Linked DNA regions of Homo sapiens: regions 1 and 3 are each linked to region 2. Evidence: fine-mapped expression QTL. A gene starts in region 2. Each other region holds a variant in brackets. All regions are shown on one strand. Distances are between the middles of the regions.

Evidence for each region.
Region 1: its variant is fine-mapped to the expression of PCSK7 in whole blood (TOPMed, PIP above 0.99).
Region 3: its variant is fine-mapped to the expression of PCSK7 in whole blood (TOPMed, PIP above 0.99).

What each region holds. Positions count from the first base shown.
Region 1 is chr11:117,058,536-117,067,879 of GRCh38, forward strand. The region is part of intron 1 of SIK3 (SIK family kinase 3); the gene reads right to left. Among named protein-coding and RNA genes, the nearest start is that of SIK3, 35 kb to the right of the region's middle. RefSeq lists enhancers at 4,704-4,813, 4,994-5,093 and a silencer at 5,875-6,075. The variant G/GA (reference allele first, on the strand shown) is at 4,112.
Region 2 is chr11:117,226,832-117,237,644 of GRCh38, forward strand. It overlaps PCSK7 (proprotein convertase subtilisin/kexin type 7), which reads right to left and starts at 5,242. Exons shown (of 17, transcript NM_004716.4): 1 at 5,196-5,242; 2 at 3,518-3,637; 3 at 2,546-3,025; 4 at 1,385-1,519; 5 at 326-491. The coding sequence starts at 3,013. RNF214 (ring finger protein 214) reads left to right here and starts at 5,840. Exons shown (of 15, transcript NM_207343.4): 1 at 5,840-5,895; 2 at 7,436-7,548. The coding sequence starts at 7,442. RefSeq lists enhancers at 3,931-4,170, 5,040-5,089, 8,964-9,465 and silencers at 5,280-5,429, 5,640-5,979.
Region 3 is chr11:117,200,534-117,211,346 of GRCh38, forward strand. TAGLN (transgelin) reads left to right here. Exons shown (of 5, transcript NM_003186.5): 2 at 2,469-2,660; 3 at 2,774-2,951; 4 at 3,249-3,351; 5 at 3,682-6,931. The coding sequence starts at 2,481. The coding sequence ends at 3,826. It overlaps PCSK7 (proprotein convertase subtilisin/kexin type 7), which reads right to left. Exons shown (of 17, transcript NM_004716.4): 13 at 8,364-8,520; 14 at 7,437-7,531; 15 at 6,534-6,627; 16 at 6,148-6,265; 17 at 3,804-5,823. The coding sequence ends at 5,464. It overlaps LOC100652768 (a long non-coding RNA gene), which reads right to left and starts at 1,381. Exons shown (of 8, transcript NR_045215.1): 1 at 1,228-1,381. RefSeq lists enhancers at 1,382-2,045, 5,224-5,854, 5,855-6,485, 6,486-7,116, 7,957-8,457 and 1 more. The variant C/A (reference allele first, on the strand shown) is at 3,576.

The DNA of each region.
Region 1 (9,344 bases), 170 kb before region 2:
ATTACCTCCATCTTTATAATGAACAGTATTGTACAGGAAATAACATAATAGATTTGTTGTTTTCTCTCTTTTTAAAGGTCACTCTGCTGAAGTGTAGAATCAGCTGCAATGGAGGAAGGTGACACGAACCAAAGGAAAATGTGGAAAGATTTAGAAAGAACTGTCATTCTGGTGAAGGAGAAATGAAATCAACTCCAAACAAGTGAGAAAACTACTAAAGAGAATAATAAGCACAGATGAGGCTAAAACCCATGGATTAGCAAAAGAACAAATTAATATGATGAAATCATTTCTTCAGGCCCTAGAGCGGGAACACAGAAAAAGGGCAGTACTGTTAATCCACAGCTGGAGATCTGCATGGCATGTGGGAAAGAAGAACAAAGATGCAGGAGAACTGCGGATACTGATGACTCATTGAAAGTGACCAATTATGGCATCCATATGGGATAAAGTGATGCCAGGAAGAATGTCACAAATTGGGAGACAATGGAGATTTAAGGGGCTGGCGGCCTCAGTGAAATGAGAAAATAAACTCAGCAAATGGAAGAACTGAAAAGACAGGAAATTGTGTTCAAAGAGAAAAATTTACAGATTTGTAATTCCAGAAGTGGACGTTTGGCCACAGAAATAAATTGCTACAGAGAAGTGGAAGAACAGATAGCTGGGAGAAGAAAGACCAAGTCAGATGAGATTAAGATGCTGGACAAGTAATCAACATGGACATTAAAGGCATACAAAATCACAGAGTAAGAGAAAATGATTTAGAAGGAATAGGAATTAAAGTCTCAGTTACAGTCTTAATATCACACTATAAAGAATGTGTTTTTAATTATATGGAATAAAACAGGATGTCTTGCTAAAAACAAAGCTTAATCTATTTGTTTAGCCAAATAATTTTCAAGGACTTCCCTGAATAGCCATTCCTGACAAAAGCTCTTAGAGAGACAAAGAAAGAAGCTTTCTTAACTTGATGATTATTTGTCACAACCAGACAGCAAGCAACATATTTAATGGTAAAAAACTAAAGGCATAAACAAGCCACAGGCTAGAAGAAAATCTTTGCAAAATACCTATCTGGTGAAGCACTGGTATCCAAAATATACAAAGAACTCTTAAAACTCAACAATAAGAAAACAAACATCCCAATTTTAAAATGGGCAAAAGATATGATCAGATACCTCACCGATATATACAGATGGCAAATAGTGTATGAAAAGATGCTAAACATCATATGTTACTAGGCTACTGCAAATTAAAACAACAACGAGACACCACATACCTATTAGAATGGCTAAAATTCAAAGCAGTGACAACATCAAATGCTGGTAAGGATATAGAACAACAGGAACTCTCATTTACTGCTGGTGGGAAAGCAAAATAGTACAGCCACTTTGTAAGACAGTTTGGCAGTTTCTAGAAAACTAAACATTCTCTTACTATATGATCACGCAGTTCTGTCTTTGGTATTTAGCCAAATGAGCTGAAAACATATATCCACACAAAACCTGCAGACAGATGTTTATAGCAGCTTTATTCATAGTTGAAAAAAGTTGAAAGCAACCAACAAGTTCCTTAATAGGTGAATGGGTAAATAAACAGTGGAAATCCAGACAATGGAATATTAGTGCTAAAAACAATGAGCTATCAAACCATGAAAAAACTTGGAGGAAACCTAAATGCACTTTACTAAGTGAAAAAAAGTCAATCTGAAAAGGCTACATGCAATAATGCCATTCTGGTAACATCAAAACTATGGAGACAGTAAAAAGATCAGTGATTGGCCAGGCGAGGTGGCTCATGCCTGTAATCCCAGCACTTTGAGAGGCCGAGGCAGGCGGATCACCTGAGATCAGGAGTTCGAGACCAACCTGGCCAACATGGTGAAACCCCATCTCTACTAAAAATATAAAAATTAGCCAGGCGTGGTGGCGCATGCCTGTAATCCCAGCTACTCGGGAGGCTGAGGGAGGAGAATCGCTTGAACCCGAGAGGCAGAGTTTGCAGTGAGCCGAGAGCATGCCATTGCACTCCAGCCTGGATGACAAGAGCAAAACTCCATCTCAAAAAAAAAAAAAAAAATCAGTGATTGCCAGGGACTGAGGAGAGGAAGGGATGAATAGGTACAGCACAGGGAATTCTTAGGGTAGTGAAATTATTCTGTATGATACTGTAATAATGGATATGCAACATTACAAATTTGTGAAAACTCTTACAAATGTGCAACACAAACTATGGATTCTAATGTAAACTATGAATTTTAGTTAATGTACCAATATTGCTCATCAATTGTAGCAAATGTACCACACTAATGCAAGATGTTAATATCAGGGAAAATCGTGAGGACAGGCAGAGATAATGGGATATGTGGGATTTCTCCGTACTTTCTGCTCAACTTTTCTGTAAACTCTAAACTTCTCAACATAAAGCCTGGCCAGATGCTGTGGCTCACACCTGTAATATCAGAACTTTTGGAGGCTGAGGTGAAGGGATCGCTTGAGGCCAGGAGTTTGAGACCAGGCAGGGCTAACACAGTAAGACCTCGTCTCTATCAAAAATTAAAAATTAGTTGGGCATGGTGGCACACACCGGTAGTCCCAGCTACTCAGGAGGCTGAGGCAGGAAGATGGCTTGAGCCCAGAAGTTCAGGGCTGTGGTAAGCTGCGATCATACCACTGCACTCCTGGGCAACAGAGCAAGACCCCATCTCAAAAAATAGATAAAATAAAGCCTATTCATTAAAAAAAAAATTTTAAGGTATTACCATTTGAGTCACACAAGAGAAGATAATGTCTGTTGTGTGTGTGTGTGAGCGAACACGCATGTGGTAAAGCAATATATTCGAGAGGTTCAGAGTGCAAACTCTGCTTGGGCTCAGTCTGGCTCTTCCACTTAATGGTTGCGTCACTTTGGGTAAGTTATAAACTTCTCTAAGTGTCAGTTTCTTCACTGGCAAATTGGGGATAATAATCATCATGGAGTTTTAAAGATTAAACGAGTTCACAGATGTAAAAGCACTGACCAGAACAAATTAAGTACTCAATAAATCTTAGTTCCCTGTAACTCAACATAAGGTCTATGAACCCATAAGTCAACATTACCTGGGAGCTTGTCAAAATGCAGACTCTCAGGCCACTCCAGCCCTACTGAGTCTTCATTTTAATAAGATCCTCAGGTAATTGCTGTGCATATTTAAGTTGAAAAGCACTGTATTCGCTGGTATGATTATTATCAATCATAAGCTATTCTTTGAAAATGTCAATAAATAAGCAGAAATATTAGAAGAGTCCAAATTATTATTTGCTGATGATACGTTACAAAAAAAGAGAATCAATTATAATAGTTAATGAAATTTTGAAACATATTCTAAAGATACAGTAATTAAAACAAAGTATAGGCACATAAATAAATAAAGAGTGTATGTTAATATGACCGTTTCAAATAAGTGAGTAAATGATAAACTGATAGGGCAATTGGGTATAGATTTTTTTTTTTTAAATAAAAAAGTCAAGCCAGGCACAGTGGTTCACGCCTGTAATCCCAGCACTTTGGGAGGCGTAGGTAGGCAGATCATTTGAGGTCAGGAGTTCAAGACCAGCCTGGCCAACATGGTGAAACCCCATCTCTACTAAAAATACAAAAATTAGCCAGGCGTGAACTCCACTGTGCCCGGCCTGCTAATGTTATATTTTCAGTAGGAAATAGGCTAATATTTCAGCAGGCTAATATTTTCAGTAGGAATTACAAGCTTTCTGATTTTCCCTCGAAAATTACTTAACCCTTTGGAAATATATTCTCACGTTATCCAAATTTTCCTAAGAATTCTTAAAGTAAAAATATGTCAAATTTTGTCCTCCCCAAATGGGCCACAACGTGCATTTCCATTGGCCCTCTGATCAAACCTAGTTCCAGTTTAGTTTCAACAATGAACCATCTAAGCCAGGCAAGAAATTTAACAACATAACACCAAATATCGGCCCAAAATGGAACCCATAGGTCCAAAATATGCCTAATAGTAACAGACAGCAATTGTTTAAAAGTAATTGCAAAGAAATACAGTAAGTCCAAATTCACTTTAGTTTCAATTCTGAATCATTTCTCAATCTCTAAACTG[G/GA]AAAAAAAAAATTTAGCCATTTGTCACCTCTGACTAAATACAGGCTAAATGCAGGCTTCAGTCCCCAAATCACTAAGTGTGGAAAAAGTGCATGCCTTCAAGAAAAGTGCCAACGGGAGGATTTTCCCAGAAAGAGTGGTTCACATACACAGTAGGAAAATCTTGTATAGGTAACTTGGCTACCAATTTAATTCCCTCAACCAATTTGGAAACTAATGGAAGTAAATGACTAAGAACTAAAATACATCAGACAGCATGGAAAAAAACATACGTATTAAAAGCACACAATGTGATTTAAGTTTGTTTTTAATTGCCTTTTGCTGAAGTTGGAATATTAAATTCTTTTGCTGCAGATAAATCAGAAATCAGCTTTACTGGTTTCCTATAATGTTGCACTTAGAAATGTTCAGCTGCTATAATGAATTACATGACTACTTAAAGGGGTTTCTTACTCCTTGTACAATATTTAAAAGAATGTATTACATGTATATCTGCCTTATACTAACTAATCTTCATATCATTGGGTCTAAATTATTAAAGTGATATAAACTACCAGTTATTGGAATTAAACACCCTCCCCTTTCTCTAAAACTGTTAGCTTCAATGAGTACCCACGTCTCAGAAGCTATGACCATAACTACACTGAAACCATAAATTAGTGAGATTGGAATTCCCCCACAAAGGAGGGGGAAGATTCAATACCTTTTCTCATAGCTGTAGCAGGCAATACTCTCTTGGTTTCTCAGAACCACTAAGTACGGCAGTCTCCTCTGCCCAATGTAAAGTCAGCTGCCAGGCTATCTGTAACCAAACCGTAGAACCTAGTTTCCCTTTCTGAAAAGGTAAATAATCCTTCTGGCCTGATTTACCAATAAAGATGTGAGTAAAAAGAAATTATCAAGGAGAGCATACCCAGGCTTTAACTTCTTAATGAAGTTTCTTTTTTTTTTTTTTTTTTAGATGGAATCTCACCCTGTTGCCCAGGCTGGAGTGTAATGGCATGATCTCGGCTCACTGCAACCTCTGTCTCCCGGGCCTCAGCCTCCCAAGTAGCTGGAATTACAGGCATCCACCACTACGCCTGGCTAATTTTTTGTATTTTTAGTAGAGACGGGGTTTCACCTTGGCCAGGCTGTTCTCGAACTCCTGATCTCAAGTGATTCGCCCCACTTCAGCTTCCCAAAGCTAGGATTACAGGCATGAGCCACCACGCCTGGCCTGAAGTTTCTTAAGATTCCCCATCTTATAAGAAAAAGACAAACCTTGTTGGTAATGTTAATACCAATAAGTACAAATTGCACGCTCCATATCTCATATTCAGTCAGAAAAAAAAAATTAGCCTTCAGGGACACTGATAACTTTATTATATGTTAATGAATACAGTATCAAAAACATCTGGAAAAAGTACCCCTGTTAAAGAGCACAGCATTAAGAATTCACAGAGGCTGCTCAGGATAAAGCCAGGTCAAAACTAAGGTCAACATCCTTCAGGGTTTTCAATGTCAGGGTCATTCATGTACTGAGACTTAAACTTGATCCTGAGTATAATTTGTCAGTAACTGCCAAGAATTTAAAAAAGGAAAAACAATAATTTAGAGTGCCTGTATTATCTAATTTATAGTAGACTTCATTAACACCAGAGAAACATCACAATTCCTATACCCCTACAACTTTTTAATTATCTCTTCAAGACATCTTAAATGAAAACAGCATATTACTTATTGCCTCTCACTCTTAACTCCTTTTTCTTTATTCTTTGAGATTGCTGACTCAAAGCCATCTTGGGCAATAAAGACTGGTTCAGCATTCTTCCAACTCATCTAAAAAACATTTTACATTTAGTGGCAGTTCAGTCTTTAACCACAGATCACATTTCTTTTCTACTGATAAGCACTGTCACAAATCAGAATTAACAATACAATTTTAGCATATTATCTTATCAGACTTCATAATTCTCCACTGCTGCCTAGATCTTGATTTTTCAACTCTTATACCTACAACGGCTGCTTTTTAAAAAGGCATCTTAAAACAGGTCTTTCATTTAAGTTCTTTCTACAGCAAAGGCAGGGTAATTAGTAGCTAAATGGCTTACAAATTGAGCTCTCTTCAAACACTAAAAATATTACCTAAACTAATATATCTGAACTGCACTTGACTTTTAATTGCTAAAATTCTCGTGTTAGATAAAACTCAGGAATTGATCCCATAGAAAGTAACTTTGTCGGCCAGGCGGTGGCTCACGCCTGTAATCCCAGCACTTTGGGAAGCCGAGGTGGGCAGATCACGAGGTCAGGAGTTCAAAACCAGCCCGGTCAGCATGGTGAAACCCCATCTCCACTAAAAATACAAAAAATTAGCTGGGCAAGGTGGCACACGCCTGTAGTCCCAGCTACTCGGGAGGCTGAGGCAGAAGAACTGCTTGAACCCAGCAGGCAGAGGTTGCAGCGAGCTGAGATTGCACCACTGCACTCCAGCCTGGGTGACACAGGGAGACTCCATCTCAAAAATAATAATAATAATAATAATAACAATAATAATAATAATAATTTCGTCTCTAGTGATTCTTACCCAACATAAAATGAGACGTAGCTTGGTTTCTTCCCTTGTTCTGATAAACCCCAAACTACTTTATTATTTTAAAAAATGAAAGAACAAGTGAAGACTGGATATTAAATTTTAATTATAAACTATTTTAAACAGTAAAATTAAAAGTCCATTAGTCTATTAGAATAATCACAGTAAATACATCATGTTAATAAAAGAAATGAATTTTTCATTTTTTTTACAGCAAATCAGACAACTCAATAACTTTTGAAAACAATCCATGAAAACGAATGTTAAACCTGGCACTGTATTTCATTTGAGGGCATGGAAACTTTACAGTGACTTAAGACAAAATATTCTATACAGCGGAGTTGATCAAAATAAATGCTTTTTAAACACAAATTTAGTATCTTCAATATCTTCAAATTTAAAAATAACTTTCATAAATTGATTTTTTTTTTTTTTTGACACAGAGTCTCACACTGTTGGAGTGTAGTGGCACGATCTCAGCTCACTGCAACCACTACCTCCAGGATTCAAGCAATTCATCTGCCTCAGCCACCCTAGTAGCTGGTATTACAGGCATGCACCACCACACCTGGCTAATTTTTGTATTTTCAGTAGAGACAGGGCTTCACTCTGTTGGCCAGGCTGGTCTCGAACTCCTGGCCCCAAGTGATCTGCCCACCTCAGTCTCCCAAAGTGCTGCACAATTACAGGTGTGAGCCGCCAAACCTGGCCCATAAATTGATTTTAATGAAGTTTATTCCCTGAGCCAATATTTCTTTATTTATTTTTACTCCTATCAATCTAAAATTCCTGGTGTCTTATGCCAAGGAATCCGGTCTTCACTAGAATACTTTATTTTTCTTTTCTTTTCTTCTTTTTTTTTTTTTTGAGATGGAGTTTTGCTCTGTCACCCAGGCTGGAGTGCAGTGGTGTGACCTCAGCTCACTGCAACCTCCGCCTCCGGATTCAAGTGATTCTCCTGCCTCAGCCTCCTGAGTAGCTGGGATTACAGGCACACGCCACCATGTCTGGCTAATTTTTGTATTTTCATAGAGATGAGGTTTCACCATGTTGGTCAGGCTGGTCTCAAACTCCTGACCTTAAGTGATCCACCCAACTCGGCCTCCCAAAGTACTGGGATTACAGGCGTGAGCCACCGCACCTGGCCTCTAAAAACTCTTGCTCTTCAAAAGACACTGCTGAAAGAATGAAAAAATAAGCCATGGAATCGGAAAAAAAAAAAATCTTTGCAAAGCGTAAAGCATTTATATAACACAGGACTTGTATCCAGGATATATAAAGAATTCTCAATATTCAACTATAAAGAAACAATCCTTTTTTTTTTTTTTTTGGAAAGACAGGGTCTTGCTCTGTCACTCAAGTTGGAGTGCAATGGCACCATCACAGCTCACTGCAGCCTTAAACAGCTAGGCTCAAGTGATCCCCCCACCTTAAACTCCTGAATAGCTGGGACTAAAGGCACATGCCAAGCACCCAGCTAATTCTTAAGTTTTTTGTAGAGACAGAGTGTCGCTTGTTGCCCAGGGTGGTCTCGAACTCCTGGCTTCAAGTGGTCCTCCCACTTTGGCCTCCCAAAGTGCTGGGATTACAGGCATGCATGAGCCACTGTGCCCGGTCAGCCCATTTCTTTTAATGAGCAAAAGATCTGAACAAATGCTTCACCAAAGAAGATACACAGCATGAAAATAAGTACATAAAAAGATACTCAATATCATTAGTCATTAGGGAAATGTAAATTAAAACCACAAGATACCATGACACAACTATTGGAACAACTAAAATTTAAGATATATCATTTTAGCAATGGTAAGGATTTAAAGCAACTAGAACTCTCCTATCTCATATATTGCTAAAGAGAATATAAAATGGTACGGCAACTTTGGAAGACAATTTGGCAGTTTCTTTAAAAGTTAAACATAAACCTACCAACCATATGACCCAGCCATTCCACTGTAAGGTATTTACCTAAGAGAAATGAAAACATACATCTACGCAAAGCTGTACATGAAGTTCATAACAGCCTTATTCATAAAAGCAAGAAAACCAGACACAATCCAAATGTTCATCAATAGGTGAATGAATAAACAAATCTTGTTACATCCATACAATGTAACACTACTCAGATTACCACTCAGCAATAAAAAACAACAAACTCTGATACAAACAACAATAAATGAATCTTAAAGAATGCTGATGAAAGAAGAGTACATCCTAGATGAGGCCATTTATATGAAATTCCAGAAAAAGCAAAACTAACCTATGGTGACAGCAAATCAGTGGTTTTCTGGAAGTGGAGGAGGATGAGAATGAATGCAAACAGTGCTACTGTAACTTTCTGCGAGACTGAATTGTTCTGTATCTTGATTGTATGGTTATTAAATGGGTGTGTATATTTGTCAAAATTCAAATTGTAAACTTAAAATGGTTCAATCTTATTGAATGTAAATTATGCCTCAATAAAGTTGATTAAAAATATCAAAATGTGGCCAGGCACGGTGGCTCATGCCTGTAATCCCAGCACTTTGAGAGGCCAAGGCGGGAGGATCACTTGAGGTCAGGAGTTCGAAACCAGCCAGGCCAACATGGTGAAACCCCATCTCTACTAAAAATACAAAAATTAGCTGGGCATGGTGACAGGCACCTGTAGTCCAAGCTACTG
Region 2 (10,813 bases):
GGACTGGGAGCTGGGGAGCTGGGGAGCTGGGAAATGCAAAGGCTGCCACCATAGACGTATCGGATCATAGAGGAAAAACCGACAAGAAGGCACTTTGTAATTTATGGAACTATAAATAGAAAAACATGTTTGAAACACCACTGCACTGAAAAATCAATGAGCTGATATGTCCTACAGACACCTATTATAAACTCACCCTTGCTCTATGCTATGTGTGTCAGCTGGGCTATGGGATAAAGATGTTTCAGAGTAGGGAGGGGTGCAGGAAATGAAGACTGTGGTCACAGGAGCAGCCTACCAAGGCTAGGCTGGAGGCACAAGTTACCTGCGATGCGGCTCCCGTAGGCCACGCCCACGGCACAGAAGCTGTTGTTGGGCACAGCCGCGATCTCTCCTGCACATCGCGTGCCATGGTGGTTGCCATTCTCCACATCCGGGTGGGGCATGGGGTCAGGGTCATTAGAGTTGAGGTCATAGCTACCCTCAGGGCTCTGAAATATTTTGGAGGTGACATGTGGTCATTCACTGGTTAGAGGGGATCAGGTCCTGGGGTTCAGGGACAGAAAGGAAATGGGAGTTTGGGAATCGAAGCTAGGGCGATAAGCTCATTTCTCATCGTTTCTGTTTTTGAGATGGAGTCTCACTCTGTTGCCCAGGCTGGAGTGCAGTGCCACAATCTCAGCTCACTGCAACAACTGCCTCCCAGGTTCAAGCGATTCTTCTGCCTCAGCCTCCCGAGTGGCTGGGACTATAGGTGAGCGCCACCACACTTGGCTAATTTTTGTATTTTTAGTAGAGACGGGGTTTCACCATCTTGGCCAGGCTGGTCTCAAACTCCTGACCTCCTGATCCGCCCGCCTTGGCTTCCCAAAGTGCTGGGATTACAGGCGTGAGCCACCGCGCCCGGACCCAATAAGCCCATTTCTATCTGCAAACCACACTGGCTAAAAGATATGAGCAAAGGACACTGGGGCAAAACTGAGAAGTGCCACAGCTCCCAGCAAACTTCTCTTGCCCATTATGCGAATGTGCCTACAGCTCCACGGCTTGGGAAACCTGGAAAAAAGGCAGGTAGGGCTCCCTAGAGGCCACGCTTTAGAGAGAGGAAGGCACTCGGATTTCCAACAAGAGGGAAGTTGCCTGCAGGGGCCACTCCTTACTCCTCAGAAAAGGACTAGAACTGAGAGCAGGATTGTTCTTAGAGTTAGAGCCACCTGCTGTGCCTTGACTGGCTAGCTAGGGAAAAGAAGAGGATGAACCCCATCCCACCTCCCAGGCTCTTTTATTTGGCCCAAAGACCTCTAGAAAAGGGGACAAGACTGAGGCAACATCAAGAAGGAGGTAAGACGTGGGGAGTGAGGGGTGTCGTTCCAGGGCCACTCACATAGTTGGGTGCAATGTCCTGGATGGTGTGTTCCACTCCGTCATCCACTACCACCACCGTCACCCCTCGCCCAGTCACATTGCGTTCCCACACACCCGTCACGTTGATGTCCCTGCCCGGGCTCCGTCGGTTATTCTGTAAGAGAGACAGGATGGGAATACAGTGACACATAGCACAGCCCAGAGGGAGATGAAGTTATAGCTAGCAGCCCCTTTTCACCCTTGGCCTCCACCAAAGAGCCAGACAGATTGCAGACCAATAGGTCAGGTGGGAACAGAGTCAAGGAGGAGCAGGTGAGAGCTCTGCCACAGCCTTGGATTCTAGGAAAGTTTGTCATCAGTCATGGGGGATTCGGGATAAAATGGTAGCTAGGGTGAAGGGTTGGATGATACACTTCTTTTTTTTTTTTTTTTTTTGAGACGGAGTCTTGCTCTGTCACCCAGGCTGGAGTGTGGAGTGCAGTGGCAGGATCTCGGCTCACTGCAAGCTCCGCCTCCCGGATTCACGCCATTCTCCTGCCTCAGGCTTCCGAGTAGCTGCGACTACAGGCGCCTGCCACCACGCCTGGCTAATTTTTTGTATTTTTAGTAGAGACAGGGTTTCACTGTGTTAGCCAGGATGGTCTTGATCTCCTGACCTCGTGATCTGCCCATCTCGGCCTCCCAAAGTGCTGGGATTACAGGCGTGAGCCACCGCACCGGGCCAGATGATACACCTCTTATGCCAATGGTAGTATCGTATCACTTATGTCATAGTGTTTACCATGTGTCAGGCATGGTTCTAAGTGCTACACATGTATACATTCACTTACCCTAACCATAACTCTATGAGGTAGGCACTATTACAATCTCCACTTTACAGATGGAGAAGCTGAGGCACAGAGTTTAAGCAGCTTGCCCAAATGCACATGCTAGTAAGTGGCAGAGCTGGACCATGAGCCCAGGCAGCCTGGCTGCACCATCTGTGCCCTGAGCACTGTAGAACACCGGCCTCTAGAAGACAGTAGAAGGGAGGGAGAGCCTAGGGAAACACCACAGAACCGGGAAATGGTCCCTCAGGCAAAGGATGGAGGTGACTGAAGAGTGATATAGTCAAAAGCCCATTAAAGAACTGGACTGGAACCTACCCACCTGAAACTGCAAACTGCAGGACTGGACTCACCAGGTGCCATTGCTGCGGGTACTTGGGGTCGTTGAAGTGGACGCTGCGCTTGGCCCGCCTTAGCAGCCTCTGCTCTGAGTGCCAGCGCACAGCTTCATGCCCAGCCAACACAGCCTCCACCTGCTGCCGGATGGCCTCCACCTCCAGGGCCGGCCTGTGCCCAGCAGGCTGGACAAAGAGGTAGTGCCCCTGAAGCTCTCCGATGCGTCCAGCATTCACCAGCCCTGCTGCCTGGGCCAAGGCATCCGCCTGCTGCTCCAGAGTCTCTTCCTCCCCGTCACCTTCCAGGCTTTCCAGGTGCACAGCCCAGCTCGGCCCCCCTGTGCCCTGGCCATCAGGCCCACCTGTCCCTGCCAGGCCCATGACCCAGGGAACCAGTAAGAAGAGCCCGGCTAATTCCAGCCAGAGGCAGGTGGGCAGGCCCAGGGGGGCATCCAAGTGTGGCACTTTCTGCCTCCCCTTCGGCATCAGAGCAGTGGACTGCAGACAAAGAAAAAGGATATGGAAGAGATCAAAGAGCTGGTAACTGCAGGAATCTGAGAGGGAGATGCTGAGCCATCCATGTGTTCCCCCTGGAAGTCCCTAAGCCATGCCTTTTAAATTGTGAAACATTTGATCTTCTCTTTTTGTTCACATTTATCCCTGACCAACAGGGATAAGCCCCCAGGTGGAGTGTGGGCCAGCACTAACACCAGCGGATGGCCTCCCACAGCAAGACAGCCAATCCTCACGACACCAGCTAATCCAGCAGGAGGTCCAGTTGCTCACAGGCACTGCGAGCAACCCCTGTTGCCACCCACAGGGCTCAAAGCACACATCGCTTCCACAAACTACTGGCTGCATCGTGACTGTTCTTTAGCAGAGACAACCCCTTCACCCCTACATTTAGAGGGGACATAAATCTTTCCCTAGCTGACTCCTCAGTCCAGTTGTCCTCAAGGCTAATTCCCCATAACAGGGCCCCGTGCCCACCTGGATTCTACATGAGGTTGAGCTCCTGGTCTGGCTAACCACGTCACACTCATGTTGTGCAAATGGAGAAAAGGCATCACTTTCACTGTGAGTAGTGTTGACTCAGCAAAGGCTACAGACCTGTGGGATCCAAGAACAGAAGAAATAATGTCCCACCAATCCCAGGGCAACAAGCTGAGGTTAGATAAACTCCAGGACCAGGGACCAAAGAAACTTCATTAATTGTCATTTCCAAAGATCTAAAATCGGTCATAGACTGGAGCAGAACTGGTACGGTGAGGCCAAATCAGTATAACACCCAAAAAACCCACTTCCTGTGCTATCGTGCCACCCTCTTTTCATTTTGTTCCCCAGAGGCCTAGCAAAAAACAGTTACCAAAATGCCTCTTGAAAGAGTAGGTAATAACGTCCTAGAAGTCCAGGTGGTAGCTAACTTCTTGATTTGTATATCCCAGAAGGATACCAGGGAAAGTGAAAGGAGGGAGGCGGCGGGGGCGAAACGGGGAAAGCCAGAGAGTGCAAACAAAACAGAACAGGCACCAAGGACAAGCGGGCAACCAGGAGAGAACGAATGATGAGAGAACCTCACTAAGCAGCTACTCCTGTACTGAGCTCAGGAGGCTGGCTTCAAGGTGAGGACTCAGACTCCAGACTGGGACTCCAATTGCCTGGGTTTGACAGAACCAGGGAATTGGTCTCAGGAGCCCTCAAAAAAAAAAAAAAAGAGCCAAGTTAGAACTGGGGGACAGACAAATGGGGTGGCAGGACATGTGTGTACCTATGGTGGCTGGGCTCCTTTAAAAGCCTTTGCTCTCCACTGGGTCCACCCTGGGGCAGGGCTTAGTACTCAGATACACACCCAAGCGGCTCTACCTCAAAGCATTCCAGAAAAATGGGAATTTTACTGAAAGGCTTCCTGGAAAGGAGAACTTATGCCACCTCTCCTTTACCTCTAAAAATCTTCATACTACATTTCTTCCTCTCGTTTTCTCTTAGGTTTCCAGGCATATTCCCTCTCAATCCCTCCCTGCCCCCGGGAGCCTCAATTCTCCCAAGATATTTAGGTGTCTTCCCCAGTCTGCATACTCTACTAAGTAAACAAACTAACAAACAAAACCCTTGTTAGCCAGACAGTGGCCCCGCTAGGCAGACTCCTTCAGACTCAGTAGATCCCACCACAGATGTCAGGAAGAAAGAGAAGCAGGAGCTCCTTCTGTCTACTAGTGGCAAAGCAGCATTTTTATCCCCCAGGCTTCTGGGAAAGGAACCTTAAATGCCTTCTGAAAGCAGGTCTCAACCTCTCCCAACGGCTAGGCCTCCCTTTACAGCTCTTAATTGACAAGGAAGAAGAGAATGGGCAGCCTGGAGTCCAAGATCCTGCTCCCAAGCTACTGTCCTCGCTGTTCCACACCCGGCTCCTAGAAGCCAGCTTGGGTACCGGGTCAGTTTCCCGATTCTCCCTCCGTCGGCCTCGATCGCTCCGTGCAATGTGCCCCTCTCCTCATTAGCACCCACATTATCCAGGAATTCTGGGCCCTGGGGCCCCATCTCCTTGGTCCCCCACGCCAGGACCTCAGGCACCCTCTGTGCAGCTCCCTCATCCTCAGACGCCGGCTTCCCCCACTTCTGGGGCCCCCTGACCACCCAGGTCCAGCCCCACACCTAGTTCCCAACTCACCGGCCCCGCCGCAGCTGCCGCCGCCTCCCTGCGGAAACTCGCGGCTTCCCGGGAGCCGGAGGAGCAGTGACAGCAGCATCACTTCCGCCCGCGGCGCAGCCAATCAGCGCGGCGCCTGCGGCCCGGCGACCCCCGCGGGCCACAGCAACCGGCGCCCGGGGTCCGGCTCCCGCGGGCGGCCTACGCAGGCAGGGGCCGTGCGGGCGCTGGGGGCTGAACCCGCGGGCTCCGCCTCCCCGAGTCCTCGGGGCATCTTCCACATGGTCCCTCTTCAGAAGGCTCTCCTTCATGGCGTCCTCTGTAAAGGGCATTTCGGTTCCGACCTTTAAAAGCCACTCGTTGCTCTTCTCCTTCTGACCGCCATGGCCCCGACTGTCCCTGTAATCTTCCCAGAGGGGATCCTGCCCACCCAGGTCGCCTTCCTTCTCGCAGTCGGCTCTCCCTTCTTCCCCGCGCCCCGGGAGAGTCCACTTGTATCTCAGGGGTCTCCCGCAGCATCCCCGTGCCCCGGCGGCGCCAGCTGTCGCCGCCAGAGGGCGCCGTCGGGGGCGGCGCGGCGCCACCGCGGCCTCTCCTCTCGCGGCCGGAGCCTCGCCCCCTCCGCTCGTGCCGCCGGAAGTGGGAGGTGCCGCGCGCGGGCCGGCGCTCGACCCCTCCCCCCGTGGCTCGGCCGCCCCCTCCCCCCGCTCCGCCCGCTCAGGTGCGTCCCGTCCCTCCCCCACTTTCCTCCCGGGGGCGCGGCGCGGGAGGTGTGTGCGGGGCGAGCGTGGGTGGGGGTTGCGGGGCGAGGGCCGGGCATGGGGGTCGGGTGGGGGGCGTGGAGGGTGCTGTGAGAACCGAGGCGGGGGTCCCGGCCTAGAAGTGGGACGGGGGGGTGGCTGGCAGCGGGGTGGGGGGACCGAGGGGAAGGGGTGGAGGGGGGTCTGGTCCGAGCCAGCGGCCAGCCTAGCAGTCCCCTGTGGGGGGTGGCCAAGGCCACCCAGCGCCGCTTCCCCCCATTGTCCCCTTCCCGTCTGTCCCCTGTTCTCGCCCGAGGACCCGTGGCTCCGGCGCCCCTGCTTCGCTGGTGGTCGCCCCGGGTTGCGGAGTTCTTTTTGGTACACTCGACCCTCCAGCCAGCTGTTCCTACCCGCGCCACGGGCTCTCTAGCCACGGAGTTGCATGCATGGCCCTTGTCCTGGGGTTTCGTTCACCGGGCGCAGAGGACCCCCCAGCCCTGGGCTATGTTGGAGACGGGATGTTTGCACCTGAGGGAGCAGCAATGGCGGTTTGGGCCCATTTTCTCCCAGGAGCTTTGTATAATGAGGGAAACTGAGGCACAGAGGGTCTGTGGGCTGTGACTGAGGTGTTGACACAGCCCCATCTACCTATCTGCCCTATGCGCTCTTCAGTGTTCCGGGGGGGAATACGTGTGATGCTGTTAAAATAAAAGCAAGAATGCAAACTAACCCGATGTTCATCCCCACCTCCCAAGTATTTTGATTTTCTTTTCTCCTCATAAGGTCATAAGTTTGCTCTGCGGCATAAAAGATGACCTTTTGATTTTTAAAAAAGGCGTCCGTCCCAGTTCCCTTACTTGTGTTACCATGTTTTTTACCTTGACTTTTTCACGCTAGAGAACCCAGGATTCTTTTTTGCACCACTAGTCACTCTGAAGAGTCTGTTCTTTGCTCAGTTAGTGGGTATCAGGCCTTTCCCATCTGTGGGGAGCACGCTGACAGTAAAATATGCACCCTGGATTGCCCAGTATTGCATTACTTGTTGACTTACAGGCAGACACCTCCAAAAACTTCCCTTAAATTAATGGAGAATGCTTTGAATGTAACAGCCATAAAGTGATTTAAAAACATGAGATCTGATTGATACTAGGCCGAAAAGTACGTCTTTTATTAAAAATGATAGCAGACAAGGTAGGCCTGGGACCACTTGGAAGATCCTGGCAGACTAAGATGTATTGTTTGAAATGACTACATTTCTGCCAAAAGTGAAAATAAGATCTTTGCACAGACTCCTAGATATTTATGTAAATACAGTGACTCCTGAGGATTGCTGCCCACTAGGACACTAGGACTTTGCATACAATGTCTCTTTTAGTACTCTTAAGTATTTTCTCCCGGAGCCCAGGTTTTTGTGTTTCTTTACTGCGACAGCTCTGTTGTGTGGACATTCTGAGGGGGGAGAGATACATTTGTTTTAAACTTTGGAAACTTGTAGCCTGTAATTTGTTTCTGAATGTACAGAGCATAATGGCAGCGTCTGAGGTTGCTGGTGTTGTGGCCAATGCCCCCAGTCCTCCGGAATCTTCTAGTTTATGTGCTTCCAAATCAGACGAAGGTCTCCCAGATGGTCTAAGGTAATGTGTGGACTCCTGACTGGGAAGATTCATTTGGGTAAAGGGTTTTTGAGATGGTCTTGTGTAGCTGGTCTTTCTTTTTGGCTCTGATGGCACTGCACTAGCTTTTTAAAGGTACAGGACTGTCTGATCTATCTTTGTATTTCTGGTATCCAACACAGCACCTGATACTCAGCAGGCATGCTAAATGTTTGGGGAATAAATAGAATAGAATACATGGGGTCAAACTCATTAAAAAATGCAAACATTTTCCAGCCCTTTCCTACGTGGACTGTATGTTCATTTAACCATATGTTTATATGTTATATATGAGAAATGTTATATCAGTATGTGTACATGGATATCTAAATATGTATACATACAGATACACAATTACCCAAACTTATATCTCATAGTAGCTAATATGATACATTGTTATGTACAGTGTTGAACTAAATTAGCTATATAGTCATCCCACAGTATATGCTGGAGATTGGTTCCAGGACCCCTACTGAGGATACCAAAATCTATAAATGCTCAAGTCCCTTACATAAAATGGTGTAGTATTTTATCTGGGATAGGCATATGCCCACCCTACTTAAAGCTATTAAAAAGATAAAAAATAAATAAAGTGGTGTAGTATTTGCATATAACCTATGCATGTCCTCCCATATACTTTAAACAATAGGTTATTTACAACAACTAATACAATGTAAATGTTATGTAAATAGTTGTGTTGTTTAAGGAATAATGACAGGTAAAAAAGTTTGTACATGTTCAGTACAGATGCAACCATCCAATTTTTTTCTGAAAATTTTTTTAATGGTTTCAAATCTATTTCACTTTTCTTTTTTTGAGATGGAGTCTCACTCTGTTGGCCCAGGCTGGAGTGCAGTGGCGCGATCTCGGCTCACTGCAAGCTCTGCCTCCCGGGTTTATGCCGTTCTCCTGCCTCAGCCTCCCCAGTAGCTGGGACTACAGGCGCCCGCCACTACGCCCGGCTAATTTTTTGTATTTTTAGTAGAAACGGGGTTTCACTGTGTTAGCCAGGATGGTCTCGATCTCCTGACCTCGTGATCCGCCTGCCTCGGCCTCCCAAAGTGCTGGGATTACAGGCGTGAGTCACCACGCCCAGCCTTTTTTTTTTTTTTTTTTTTTGAGATGGAGTCTCGCTCTGTCGCCCAGACTGGAGTGCAATGGCGTGAACCCAGCTCACTGCAACCTCCGTCTCCTGGGTTCAAACGTCTCCTGGATTCCCTTACCTCAGCCTCCCAAGTAGCTAGGATTACAGCCGCCCAGCACCACGCCTGGCTAATTTTTGTATTTGAGTAGAAACGGGGTTTTGCCACGTTGGCCAGACTGGGTATTTTACTTTTCAGTGATTTATTTTTATATTTTAAAAAATGGACACGATAATTGTACGTATTCATGGGGGTACATAGTGATGTTGTGGTGTATGTGATGTATAGTGATCAGATCAGGGTAATTAGCATGTCCATCATCACAAACGTTTATCCTTTTGAATATTTTCAGTCCATGGTTGGTTGAGTCCATGAATGTGGACCACATTCTACATAAAGAGGCTGACTGTGTATTCTTCCTCAACTCTGTTTTTTTTTTGAGAGAGACTCTTGCCCTGTCCCCCAGACTGGAGTGCAGTGGTGCGATCTTGGCTCACTGCGACCTCTGCCTCCCGGGTTCAAGTGATTCTCCTGCCTCAGCCTCCCTAGTAGCTGGGATTATAGGCACCTGCTTGGTAGCCCGGCTAATTTTTGTATTTTTAGTGGAGACCGGGTTTCACCATGTTGACCAGACTGGTCTTGAACTCCTGACCTCAAGTGATCTGTCCGTCTTGGCCTCCCAAAGTGCTGGAATTACAGGGATGAGCCACTGCACCTAGCTCCGTCAATTTTTTTGTTTTTTTTTTGTTCTTGAGATGGCATCTTGCTCCGTCACCCAGGCTGGAGTGCAGTGGCGCGATTTCCGCTCACTGCAACCTCTGCCTCCCGAGTTCAAGCGATTCTCCTGCCTAAGCCTCCTGAGTAGCTGGGACAACAGGCGCCCGCCACCACACCCGGCTAATTTTTTGTATTTTAGTAGAGGCAGAGTTTCACCATGTTGTCCAGGATGGTCTCGATCTTCCGACCTTGTGATCCGCCCGCCTCAGCCTCCCAAAGTGTTGGGATTACAGGCATGAGCCACCGCACCTGGCCGTCCCTCAACTCTTTTCCAGTGTACCTGGGTCCCCTAATACAGTAGCTAACACTTAACTACAGTTCCATACGTGGTAACACATTTAATCTTCACAACAGTCCCAGGAGGTAGTGATAATATTATTCGCATTTACCGGTGAGGAAACTGAGACACAGAGAGGTTAGTAATTTGCCCAAGGTTTCCAAGCTATGTTGGAGTCAGAGTTTTGATAAATAAAATCAACTTCATACACTAGTAATAATGGCAGCTAAGGTTTATTGAATGTTTACTATGTGCCAGGCACTGTACTGAGTACTTTATGTGCATTATCTCATGTAATCCTCACAACAGTCTTGTTAGGTGGATAGTATTATTTCTGTTTTACAAATGAGGTAACTTGCCGAGAGTCAAACAGCTTGTAAATGGTGGGCGGAGTCAGGATTCAAACTCAGGTACTGTATATGCCTGAATTTTTAATTAAGCACCCGCTCACAGTTAACTCCCAGCAGGAAGGAATCAGCTTCGAGTGTTTTTATTAATATTATTGAGACAGGGTCTCCATCTGTCATCCAGGCTGGAGTACAGTGGTGCGATCATGGCCTACTGCAGCCTCCACCTCCTGGGCTTAAGCAGTCCTCTCACTTCAGCCTCCCAAGTAACTGAAGCTACAGGTGCACGCCACTACACTTGGCTAATTTTTAAATTTTTATGTAGAGAGAGGGTCTTGCTATGTTTCCCAGGCTAGTCTTGAACTCCTGACCTCAAATGATCCTCCTGCCTTGACCTCCCAAAGTGTTGGGATTACAGGCATGAGCCATTGCTCCCCAGCGAGATATTCTTTCAGTTGTTTTATTTTGAACTAGTACGACTGAGGAAACAAAGACGCATCAACTTGAATCCCCATTGCTAGTTGGGTATGGTTAAGAGTGTCAGTTATAGAATTAGTTTAAAAAAAGAGGGTGGGGTCAAAGAAATTAAACATAGGCGTAATTCCTGGGTGAAAGATGTGCAATTGTGAATGTTGGATGTCATTGTAAATATGTTTTAAAGTCCCCTTTAAAAAGCAGTACCTCACTTCAGCCTGGGTGACAAA
Region 3 (10,813 bases), 26 kb before region 2:
CTCCCCACTGGCTCGAAGGCAGGACTCGGGAGGCTTCATCAGAGGACTCTAAAGGATTTCTGGGGATTCTCCACTTTTCGACCCTGACCCAGGAGGAGGAAGGGGAAGGATGGTGGTGCTGGGTGGGAGTGGGGATGGTGTGTGCTTCATCCCCCTCTGACCGAAATCCTAATCTTGTCTCTAGATCTGGGGGCTGCAGCGTTGTGTACCTGTCACCCTTAGCCTTGCTGCTTTGACCTGTATTGTCTGTTCTGACCCTCCTGAGACTGGAAGCTGGGGGTAGGGGACACACTCTCCTTCCATCCTGTTCCTCAGGAGCCCAGCAGGGGTGCAGAAGGGGAAGGCAGACATGAGGGCAGGTGGAGTGGGGGTAGAAGCAGGGCCAGAGACAGAAGGTGGATGCCTGTCTGGGATGGTGGTGCAAAGGCTGAGACAGAGGCTGGGGTGGATGGAAGCCAGGATGCAGGGCTACCAAAATCACCTGGTCCCAGCTGACTTGGGGGTTTGGACCACAGTTCTTTGTGCAGGAGTCCTTGGGTGGTTGGGGAGCGGGGGTGGGACACACAGGGTGAAGGGAGGGATTGGCTGTTTGTAGCTGAACAGCAGAACAGAGCACTCTGCCTTTGGGGTCTCTGGCATCACTGGCAGGGAGAGGGGTGGCTGGGCCAGGAGCCCACCTCATCCCCAGTGCTCAGAGAACTGGGTCCTCAGAAGTGGTCCTGCCCCCACTTTACACATAAGGAAACAGACGCAAGGAGGAGAGGGATGCCCAATGACGGGCACTTCGATGAGTCCGTGTGAACTCTGTTCCGTGTGAGCTGCTGCGCGCTCAGGGAATGATTGTGAGAAGCGGGTGGAGGCTGGAGTGGGCAGCAAAGAACTGACATTTTGAGGTCAGTTTTTCACTCCTTGGTCAAGGGCAGGCTCTCTCCCTGGTCATTACCAGGAGCCTGGCTCCGGGCAGCAAAGAACTGACATTTCGAGGAGCTCTGCTAAGGGCCAGGCAGTATGTGAGGGAGTTCACAGACACCGTCCCATTTTCACAGCCCTCTGAGGTTGGTAACATAACCCCCACTTCACAGATGAGGAACTCCAGCCCAGAAAGCCTGTCAGCCCTGAGAAAGGAAGGGCAGGGCATCGGGCTGGGCAGCTGGCCTGGGACCAGTGGGGTGTGATAGTGTTGGCTCTGCTTCCCGCGGGTGGGGTGCCAGTGGGGAGGGGTCTCACCAGAGAGGGAGCCGGGGGAGTGCGCTCCTGCGTCCATCCTCAGACCAGCGTGTCCCTCCCAACCTCTGACCCCTCTGAGGCCAGGGGATGGGTTCGGCTTCCTTTGGTACCTCTTTTGGAAGTCTCTTCAGACAAACACTGGAGAGAAGGCACAGCACCCTAGGGTGACATCAGTGGACAGGTCAGTTTCCTGTTCCTGTTCCCAGCCACCCCTGTCTGTCTGCCCAGGGACCTACCTGCCTGGCCCACTCCTGCTGCCACCCCTCTCCATGAGTGGGACTCCTGAGCAGTGCCAGGCCCAGGCCCTCAGGGTGGCAGTTGCTGGATGGGGCCAGGCTTCCCATTCCCTGGCAGGCAGACTCTTGGCTCTGGAAGATCCCTGGGGGACTCTGACTTCTTGGTTACTCAGGCTACTCCGTAAGGGTAGCCTTACGAGAGCGTAAGGGCATGAGGGGAAGTCGATGGGTAGACCAGGTGTCTCTGATTTCTCTGAGGAAATGCAGCTTCTTTGCCAAGAACTCTTGGGCTTTGGTGGCTTCGTCGCCCTTGCCTGGGGTGGGCGAGTTTTAGTCTCTTCAGCTGCAGACCAGAAGCTGAGCTGACCTGAAAAGAGCTGGAGTTCTGGAGTTCGGGCTTCCAGGCCAGGGCCTGCTTCTGGGTGAGAGTGGGAGGTAATGGTTGCTTGAGGCAGAGGCAGTAAACCCTCACACCCGCAGCTGGACAAAGGCACCAGCTGGCTGTATTCTGTGGGGGCAATGTGGCTTCTGGAAGGTCTCTCCAGTGGCTCTGTAGCTGGTCTTGGCAAAGAATGTTCTAGACCAAGGGTTGTCAAACTACAGCTCATGGGCCAAATCCAGCCTGCTGTCTGCTTTTGTAAGTAAAGTTTTATTGGAACAAAGCCATGTTCATTTGTTACATATTGTCTATGGCTGCTTTCACACTGCAACAGCAGAGACCATGTGTCCTGCAAAGCCTAAAATATGTTCTGTCTTATCCTTTACAAAAACAGTTTACTGACCCCTGCTCTAGACCTCCAAAGACCTGGTATCCTCTTTCCTGGTGTTCAAGTTCAGAGAGGTGTCTGGAGTAGGGGCTGAGCCTGGCCTGGATGGGCAGTGCTGTGACAAGTGTCTAGGATGGCCGGGTATCCTGCACAGAGCTAGAAGGCTGCCTGGCACGGGTGAAAGCAGAGCTGCTCCCTGACCCTCTGCCCCTCCCTCCTCCACCCTGGCCTGCTTTAGCTTTCCCCAGACATGGCCAACAAGGGTCCTTCCTATGGCATGAGCCGCGAAGTGCAGTCCAAAATCGAGAAGAAGTATGACGAGGAGCTGGAGGAGCGGCTGGTGGAGTGGATCATAGTGCAGTGTGGCCCTGATGTGGGCCGCCCAGACCGTGGGCGCTTGGGCTTCCAGGTCTGGCTGAAGAATGGCGTGGTGAGTGGCACCCTGGGCTAGGGCGCTGGGGGGCTGGGGTGTGCCACCCTGTGAGTCCTGGGCCAATCCCTGAGCTGACTGCTAAGCTGCGTCCTATGCCCTATGCCTGGTAGATTCTGAGCAAGCTGGTGAACAGCCTGTACCCTGATGGCTCCAAGCCGGTGAAGGTGCCCGAGAACCCACCCTCCATGGTCTTCAAGCAGATGGAGCAGGTGGCTCAGTTCCTGAAGGCGGCTGAGGACTATGGGGTCATCAAGACTGACATGTTCCAGACTGTTGACCTCTTTGAAGGTAGAGAGGAAGAGGCTGGGGGAGGAGGTGGGCAGGAGGACAGGGTGCTGGGACAGGGAGAGGGAATGACCAGAATATGCCACAACTAGGGGTGTGCTTGCCCGCACACAGCAGGGATGGGATATGCCGAGAATAACACGCCACGCTCACAGGGCCCACTGAGAGGCCTCCCTTGAATTGGGGACAACTCTTGGCCCTGGTTTGGCCATTTTTTTGTGAGAGACGGGGGCAGGCCCTGGCTTGGAGTCTTGTTTATACGTTCTTGATGTTCATCTCCTCTCTCCTGTCTTCTCACAGGCAAAGACATGGCAGCAGTGCAGAGGACCCTGATGGCTTTGGGCAGCTTGGCAGTGACCAAGAATGATGGGCACTACCGTGGAGATCCCAACTGGTTTATGAAGTATGTGGCCCCCAGGGAGCTTGGGTCTCCGCATGGGGTGGGAGGTGGCTTGTTCTAAGGAGCTTGCGGGAAGGATTAGGGGAAGCAGATAGCCAAGAAAGGATAAAGTGAGGGTCTGGGATGGGGAATAATGGGTCCTTAATACTCCTTGACCCCTCCCTTTCCACCCTCCTGCGCTCAGTCTCCCTAGCCTATGAGGCAAGCTAGATTAGGGAAAAAAAGTG[C/A]AACAGGAAGGCAATGGGATTGGGCTAGGACGTAACAGAGGGATCAGAAAACGGGTGGAAAACACACAGTTCTACCAAGTCTTTATCCTGGTTCCTCCTCTTCTAGGAAAGCGCAGGAGCATAAGAGGGAATTCACAGAGAGCCAGCTGCAGGAGGGAAAGCATGTCATTGGCCTTCAGATGGGCAGCAACAGAGGGGCCTCCCAGGCCGGCATGACAGGCTACGGACGACCTCGGCAGATCATCAGTTAGAGCGGAGAGGGCTAGCCCTGAGCCCGGCCCTCCCCCAGCTCCTTGGCTGCAGCCATCCCGCTTAGCCTGCCTCACCCACACCCGTGTGGTACCTTCAGCCCTGGCCAAGCTTTGAGGCTCTGTCACTGAGCAATGGTAACTGCACCTGGGCAGCTCCTCCCTGTGCCCCCAGCCTCAGCCCAACTTCTTACCCGAAAGCATCACTGCCTTGGCCCCTCCCTCCCGGCTGCCCCCATCACCTCTACTGTCTCCTCCCTGGGCTAAGCAGGGGAGAAGCGGGCTGGGGGTAGCCTGGATGTGGGCCAAGTCCACTGTCCTCCTTGGCGGCAAAAGCCCATTGAAGAAGAACCAGCCCAGCCTGCCCCCTATCTTGTCCTGGAATATTTTTGGGGTTGGAACTCAAAAAAAAAAAAAAAAAATCAATCTTTTCTCAGGCCTGGCTGGCAGAGTTTGATTTGCCCTGGTCACTTTTGTTATGGTTTCAGATCTGCGCAGGGGACAGGCAGGCATCTCGGGCTTGTATGTGTTCCTGGCTGCCGTCCTCTGAAGGACCCTTCATGTGCCAAGATTCCAGGACAGTCAGATTCTTTCAGAGGAAACAGGCCATAGAACAGGAGAGTGAATCTTGGGGACCGAAGGGAAAAAGGAGCCACTCAGCAGCATGCAGTGGCTTTGGGGAGACAGAGGAAAGGAGAGATTGCGAGTGGCAGAATTGTTTGGAAGGTTTTTATTTTGGAAAAGCTGTGCAGAAAAAAATTCAAGAAAATGTTGCTGTGAAAAGAGAAAAACAAATCTTAAGCATTAAAAAAAATTCAACCAACTAGCTCAGAAGAGGGGAGAAGGCCAAGGTTGAGAGAAGAGTCACAGCCTGTCAGGCAGATAGCTGGCCTCCGGCGGGAAGGCCATTTCCCTGAGCACTTGCAGAGGAAGACAGGGTGGTGGCAGGACTGGAGTGGCAGTGGCTCCCAAGGCTCTCTCCTCCAACATGTGCATCTGCCATCTGCTCTGCAGTCCTGCCGCAGGATTCCCTAGTGAAGCAGCTCAGGCCTGGGGGAGCCGTGTGTATCCCAGCTGTGCCGGCAGCATCATACCAATCGTGGGGGTGGTGAAGGAGCCAGGGGTTCATTCATGGTTGGTTTCTGATCAGGCATCTTGGGAATGGATAATGGAGGCAGCCGCTTTCAGGACAGGCATGTCCAGGGGCTCCTCCCAGCCTCTACCCCGAAGTCCTCTTCCCAAGTGACCCCAGTGATGTTTCCATTGAGATGCGCTCCTGGCTATGGCAGGCACCTTCTCAACTTATATGTGGGAAGGGGTCCCCCATGCTTGGGGGACCTAGGCAGCTGGCTTGGCCCAAGAGAGATGAGGATGGAGGCCAAACCAAAGGGGGGCGCCAATCCCCTGTCCAACACCTTCTCACCAAAAGCTCCCGTTTGGCTGGAGGCAGACCCTGTGGCTCTGACCAGACTTCTCTGGCAGCAATCCTCCACCATTTGTATCTTAAGAAGGCCCTCACCCTCTTTGAGTGGAGTCAGAGGATGCCTCAGATTCCAGATGTAAGCATCAGAACTGCTTTCTGTCAAGAGCTCCCTAATTTTGGGAAAGAAGAGCCTGTCCCACACTGTCAGGCCCTGAGGTCAGCAGATCTGCTCCTCCTTCCCGTGCGGTACGTCTAGGTGCTGATGAGGGCAGTCCAGGGCGCTCTTGTTCTGGGACAGGCTCCAGTCCCCTTGCTCCAGCAGGTCTGGGGCAAGGAGGTCAGAGGTGGTGGGAGGGCCCCTGCTCTCTGTTTCCACTTCGTCTGGATCCTTGCTGCTGCAAAGTGGCACTGATTCTAGCTCTGTCCCTTCCTCCTTGGCTTTCCGGCTCCGATGGGGCCAGTGGCAGGGTCCACTCCTACAAACTTGATTGGAAGCCACATTCCTCTGGCTCAAATATACTTCCAGCATGTAGTAAACAGTCCAGAAGACGGTGAAACAGCCTACCAGCACCAGGGTCTGGGGCCGAGGCAAGCACCTACGTGAGGCACTGTTTCCCGAAGCCTACAGCCTTTCTCAGCCCAGGACAATGAGCTCAGAAAGTCTTTTTCCTTCTAGGGACTGCCTTTTTCACCCAAACTGTTCCCTCTGCCCCCTCCCCCGACAAGGCCTGTCCTGTAAGAGTTAGGCTAGCAGGGTAGGAGCAATGCTATGAAACCACTGCTGGGACCCAGGTCTTCCCAGTCCTTCACCCCGCAGGTCACCCTGAGAAACACACTAAGAACTCCATCCCCCAGACAGGACAGTCCCATCTACCCGCAGCTTGAGTCTTGGCCCTAGTACCTTGAGGGTGTTGGGGGTGATGGTGTAACCATCTTCCTCAGGAATTTTCAGCCCCGGTGGGCAGGGCAGGGCGAAGTCATCGTGCAGGTATTTTCCACTCATGGCACTCTCTAACAGCCTGTGGAGAAGAAAAGAGGTGAGGATGCCCCACTGACTATGGTTCCTATACCATCTGCCCTCACCCATTTTCCTGCCTTACAGGTGAAGACAGGGAAGCCCCACAGCAAAAAGGAGAGGCCCAGACTGTGAGTTCCCAGCCCGGGGCTCCATCTACCGGCTTGACGCTGGAACTGGGAAGCACAGCTGGGGTTCAGAGGGCGATGGGCTCCCTAGGCGGCCCTTCCCCTGTGACTGGCCTTCCCTCTGACACATGCGGCTTTACCCACCTTTGTCTGTCCCTGATGTCTACTGCACTCCACACAGAGCCATATAGGGTCAGCTGCCATTGCCGGAGGATGCCGACCTGGAATGACTCATCCCCTAGGGCAGCAAGGGGCAGCTCGTGAGCCACGCCCCTCTGTCAGCCATGCCAGACAGCAGAGGCCCTGCCCGCCCTGCCACCCAAAGGGGCTCAGGCCACATGGTCTGCTCCAGGAGCTGCCTCACTGTGTCCCACTGACCCCAGGTTCTGCAGAAGGGCCTCACTGGGTGCCCTTAGGGATGGAAAGGGTTGAAAGGCTGTACTCCAAAGCAGAGTCTTGCTTTTCTCTCCCGTATTTTGGGGGTTCAGCTGGGATTAGAAAAAAATGTCTTTCCACCAAATTAAAGAAAGCTTTGAAAACCACTGGCCTAGAGAATACCTAACTGACTGGAGGATGGGAGGGTGGAGCTCAATTTCCAGTCTATAGGCTGATACTAAAGATATTCACAATTCATGGATATTGTGGCCTTCACTGATATGGTGACCTTCCACAAGTCACCTCAAACCTCTGGGCCAGTTTAAAAAAAATGGTGAAATGAGTCCTGCCCTTACCTGCCTACCGGGGCTGGCCGAAGGATGGTTATACGTAAAAGGACTTGAAATGTGGTTTCGACAAGGACTTTTTGTTGCTATCCTGAGGAAAGATGGATGGGTCACTCCTCCAGGGAATATGAGAGGTAGTATAAATGAACAGTTGCAGAGAGCAATGCCCATTTCACGGATGGGCACACTCTTGGCATCAACTCTCTTGGTCCAATGGCAACCCTATATATTGCACACGGGACACTTTCTGTGGGGACTCTGAGATGCAGAGGGACCAGATAACAAGCAGGAAAGGTAGGGCCTGGTGTGAGGGCACGAGACTCACCGACATCCCTGATGACAAGCCTGTAGGTCCCTCGGGCTCTCTCCCCCCAGCATCGCACAGTGGAGAAGGTCCAGTCATTGAAGCCGTTGGGATCCCTGAGGAAAGAACACAGCAGAAACAGGTGGAAGGCGTGGGCCAGAGAGCTGACCTTCCCCCAGCAACACTTTCTTACTGTAGTAGCCGTGGAAACAACCTGGGAGGGTGCCACGAGGGCTTCTCAGGTGCCCCTTTCCCCTGGGGTCTCATGGAAGGAGGAAATTGTGTTAACGTGGTGTGGTGGAAAAAGCAAGCATGGAGCGCGCACAGGCTTGGAGTCCCACGGATCTAGGTTTATTCTTGTTCTCTTGGGCACTTACTAGCTCCATGACTTGTTTTCTTTTTCTTTCTTTTTTTTTTTGGAGACAGGGTCTCACTCTGTTATCCAAGCTGGAGTGCAGTGGCATGATCACAGCTCACTGCAGCCTTGACTTCCTGGGTTCAAGTGATCCTCCCACCTCAGTCTCCTGAGTAGCTGGGACTACAGGCATGTACCACCATGCTCAGCTAATCTTTAAATTTTTTGTAGAGACAGGGTCTCACTTTGTTGCCCAGGCTGGTCTTGAACTCCTGAGTTCAAGTGATTCTCCTGCCTTGACCTCCCAAAGTGCTGGGATTACAGGTGTGAGCCACCACACCCAGCCAGTTTCCTCATTTGTAAAAGGAGGTTACAAAGTCTAATCTAGGGGGTTCTTAGAAGGATTAGAGAACATGTATGTGAGGTGCAGGGCCTAGCGCTTGAAGAAGGTATGTGACGAAAGGCTTCCAGCCGCCAGGGATAGCCAGTGCCACAGTAGTTTAGGACAGTGCCAGGATCCACTTCTTCCATTTCTTTTCCCTGGAAAGGCCCTTGCTGAAAAGGTTGCTCAGGCCTCGGGCGGGTGTACATACGAGTCCATGCTGCGGGGGGCGCCGATGAGGGACATCATGCCACTGGGGCAGAACAGCTTCAGCTCCAAGCTGCCGCGCCGTGGGTGAGTGATGGAGACTGTCACTGCCACATGCTCCAGGGTCTTCAGCCCTGACATCTCCAGGTCCATCCTGCTGACTGTAGAAAGTCAGGCTGGGCAGCTGGGAAACCAGCCCACAAACACGCCTTCACTTCACCCCCACGTACACAAAGACACACGCTCACTGAAGCCACATACAAACATCTACGGCAACCCTAACTGGGACCTCGCCTATACTAGTAAATGGAATGGAGCTGCTGCTCTCAAGTTTACAACGTAGCTTCGAGTGCAGTTGGGAAGACGACACATACCCAAGACACAATATAAGAATCCAGCAGAGCAACTTCAATCATTCATTCATCCAAAACATTATTTACTGGGTACCTCCTCCATTTCAGGCACTGTACTAGATGCTGGGAATATAAAGATAAGATGGGCGTGGTCCCTGCCTCCTACCTGCAAGTGGAAAATGATATGGTATGGGAAATATACATAATTGATAAGGGAAGAGAAATAAGTCAGATGGGTTTAGGCACACAGCAGTGAGACACACTGAAGGAAATGAATACAGATCGGTAGACAGGGTTGGTAGAGGGCATTCTAGGCAGTGGAAAAGGCATGAACAAAGACGAAATGCACACATCTCACTGAAGATGATGCACAGTTAATTTTTAAAAAATGCTGGTGGATAAATTTCAAGCAAATTATGTGAGTGAAAAAAGCAATCTCAAAAGAAGCATATAGCCAGGTGTGGTGGTGTGCACCTGTGGTCCCACTACCGGGGAGGGTGAGGTGGGAGGATCGCTTGAGCCTGGGAGGTGGAGATTGCAGTGAGCCATGCTCATGCTACCACACTCCAGCCTGGGCAACAGAACAAGACCCTGTCTCAAAGAAAAAAAAAAAAAGAAAAAGGATGCGTAGCACACAATTCCATTTAGGTGATGTTAATTGAAGTACCTGCAGTGATACATAACAGATAAATGGGTGCCAGGGGCCAGGGACAGGGGAGGGGATGGGTGTGGCCAGAAAGGGGTAACACAAAGGAGTCTTGTGATAATGGAATTGTTCTGGATCTTGGTTGTGGTGGTAGTTATGCAAGGCTACATGTGATACAATTGCATACAGCTACACACGCGCATACACAAATATTGACAGCATGTGTATCTGGTGAACTCCAAATAAGCTCTATGGATTGTACCAATGTCAATTTCTTGGTTTTGATATTATACTTTAATTGTGTGAAACATTAAGATTGGGAGAAGGGTGCACGGGACTTCTCTTGTACATTTCTTTGAAACCTCCTGTAAATCTACAATTATTAAAACAAAAACAAAAACAAAAAACTACTGAAGAGGAAGACTCAACTGGGGACTATTAAGAAATTAGGCTGTAATGAGAACGATTCTTTTTTTTTTTTTTTTTGAGACAGAGTCTCTCTCTGTTGCCAGGCTGGAGTGCAGTGGCATGATCTTGGCTCACTGCAACCTCTGCCTTCTGGGTTCAAGCGATTCTCCTGCCTCAGCTTCCCAAGTAGCTAGGACTACAGGTGCACGCCACCATGGCCACCTAATTTTTGTATTTTTAGTAGAGATGGGGTTTCACCATGTTGGCCAGGATGGTCTCAATCTCTTGACCTTATGATCCACCCGCCTCAGCCTCCGAAAGTGCTGGGATTACAGGCGTGAGCCACTGCACCCGGCCGAATACAATTCTTTTTAAAGCACCCTTTCTTCCATTAATTTATTCCAGGCCAGGCATGGTGGCTCACTCCAGGCATGGTGGAGGATAACTTCAGCCTGGGAGACATCATCTTTACAAAAAAATAAAAAATTAGCTGGATATAGTGGTAAGCACCTGTGGTCCCAGCTACTCAGGAGGTTGAGGGTGGGAGGATGGCTTGAGCCCAGGAGGTTGAGGCTGCAGTGAACCATGACTGTGCCTCTGCACTCTAGCCTGGGCAATAGAGTGAGAGCCTGTCTCAAAAAAAAAAATTATTCCAATATGCAAGGCAGAGTACAATACCTTGATTTTACAGACACAGTAGCTCAGAGAGGCACTGAAAGTAGGGGCTGGGTAACCTAGGGTGGGATGCGCTTTAAAGATTTTTGTTTTAAATAAGCAACTAAGAGCTATTATAGATGACTGAGCAAGGACAGGGGTGTTTGTTTGTTTGAGACGGAGTCTAGCTCTGTCACCCAGGCTGGAGTGCAGCGGCTAGATGCTTGGCTCACTGCCACCTCTACCTCCTGGGTTCAAGCAATTCTCCTGCCTCAGCCTCCCAAGTAGCTGGGATTACAGGCGCATGCCACCACGCCCAGCTAATTTTTGTAGTTTTAGTAGAGACGGGGTTTCACCGTGTTGGCCAGGCTGGTCTCGAACTCCTGACCTCAG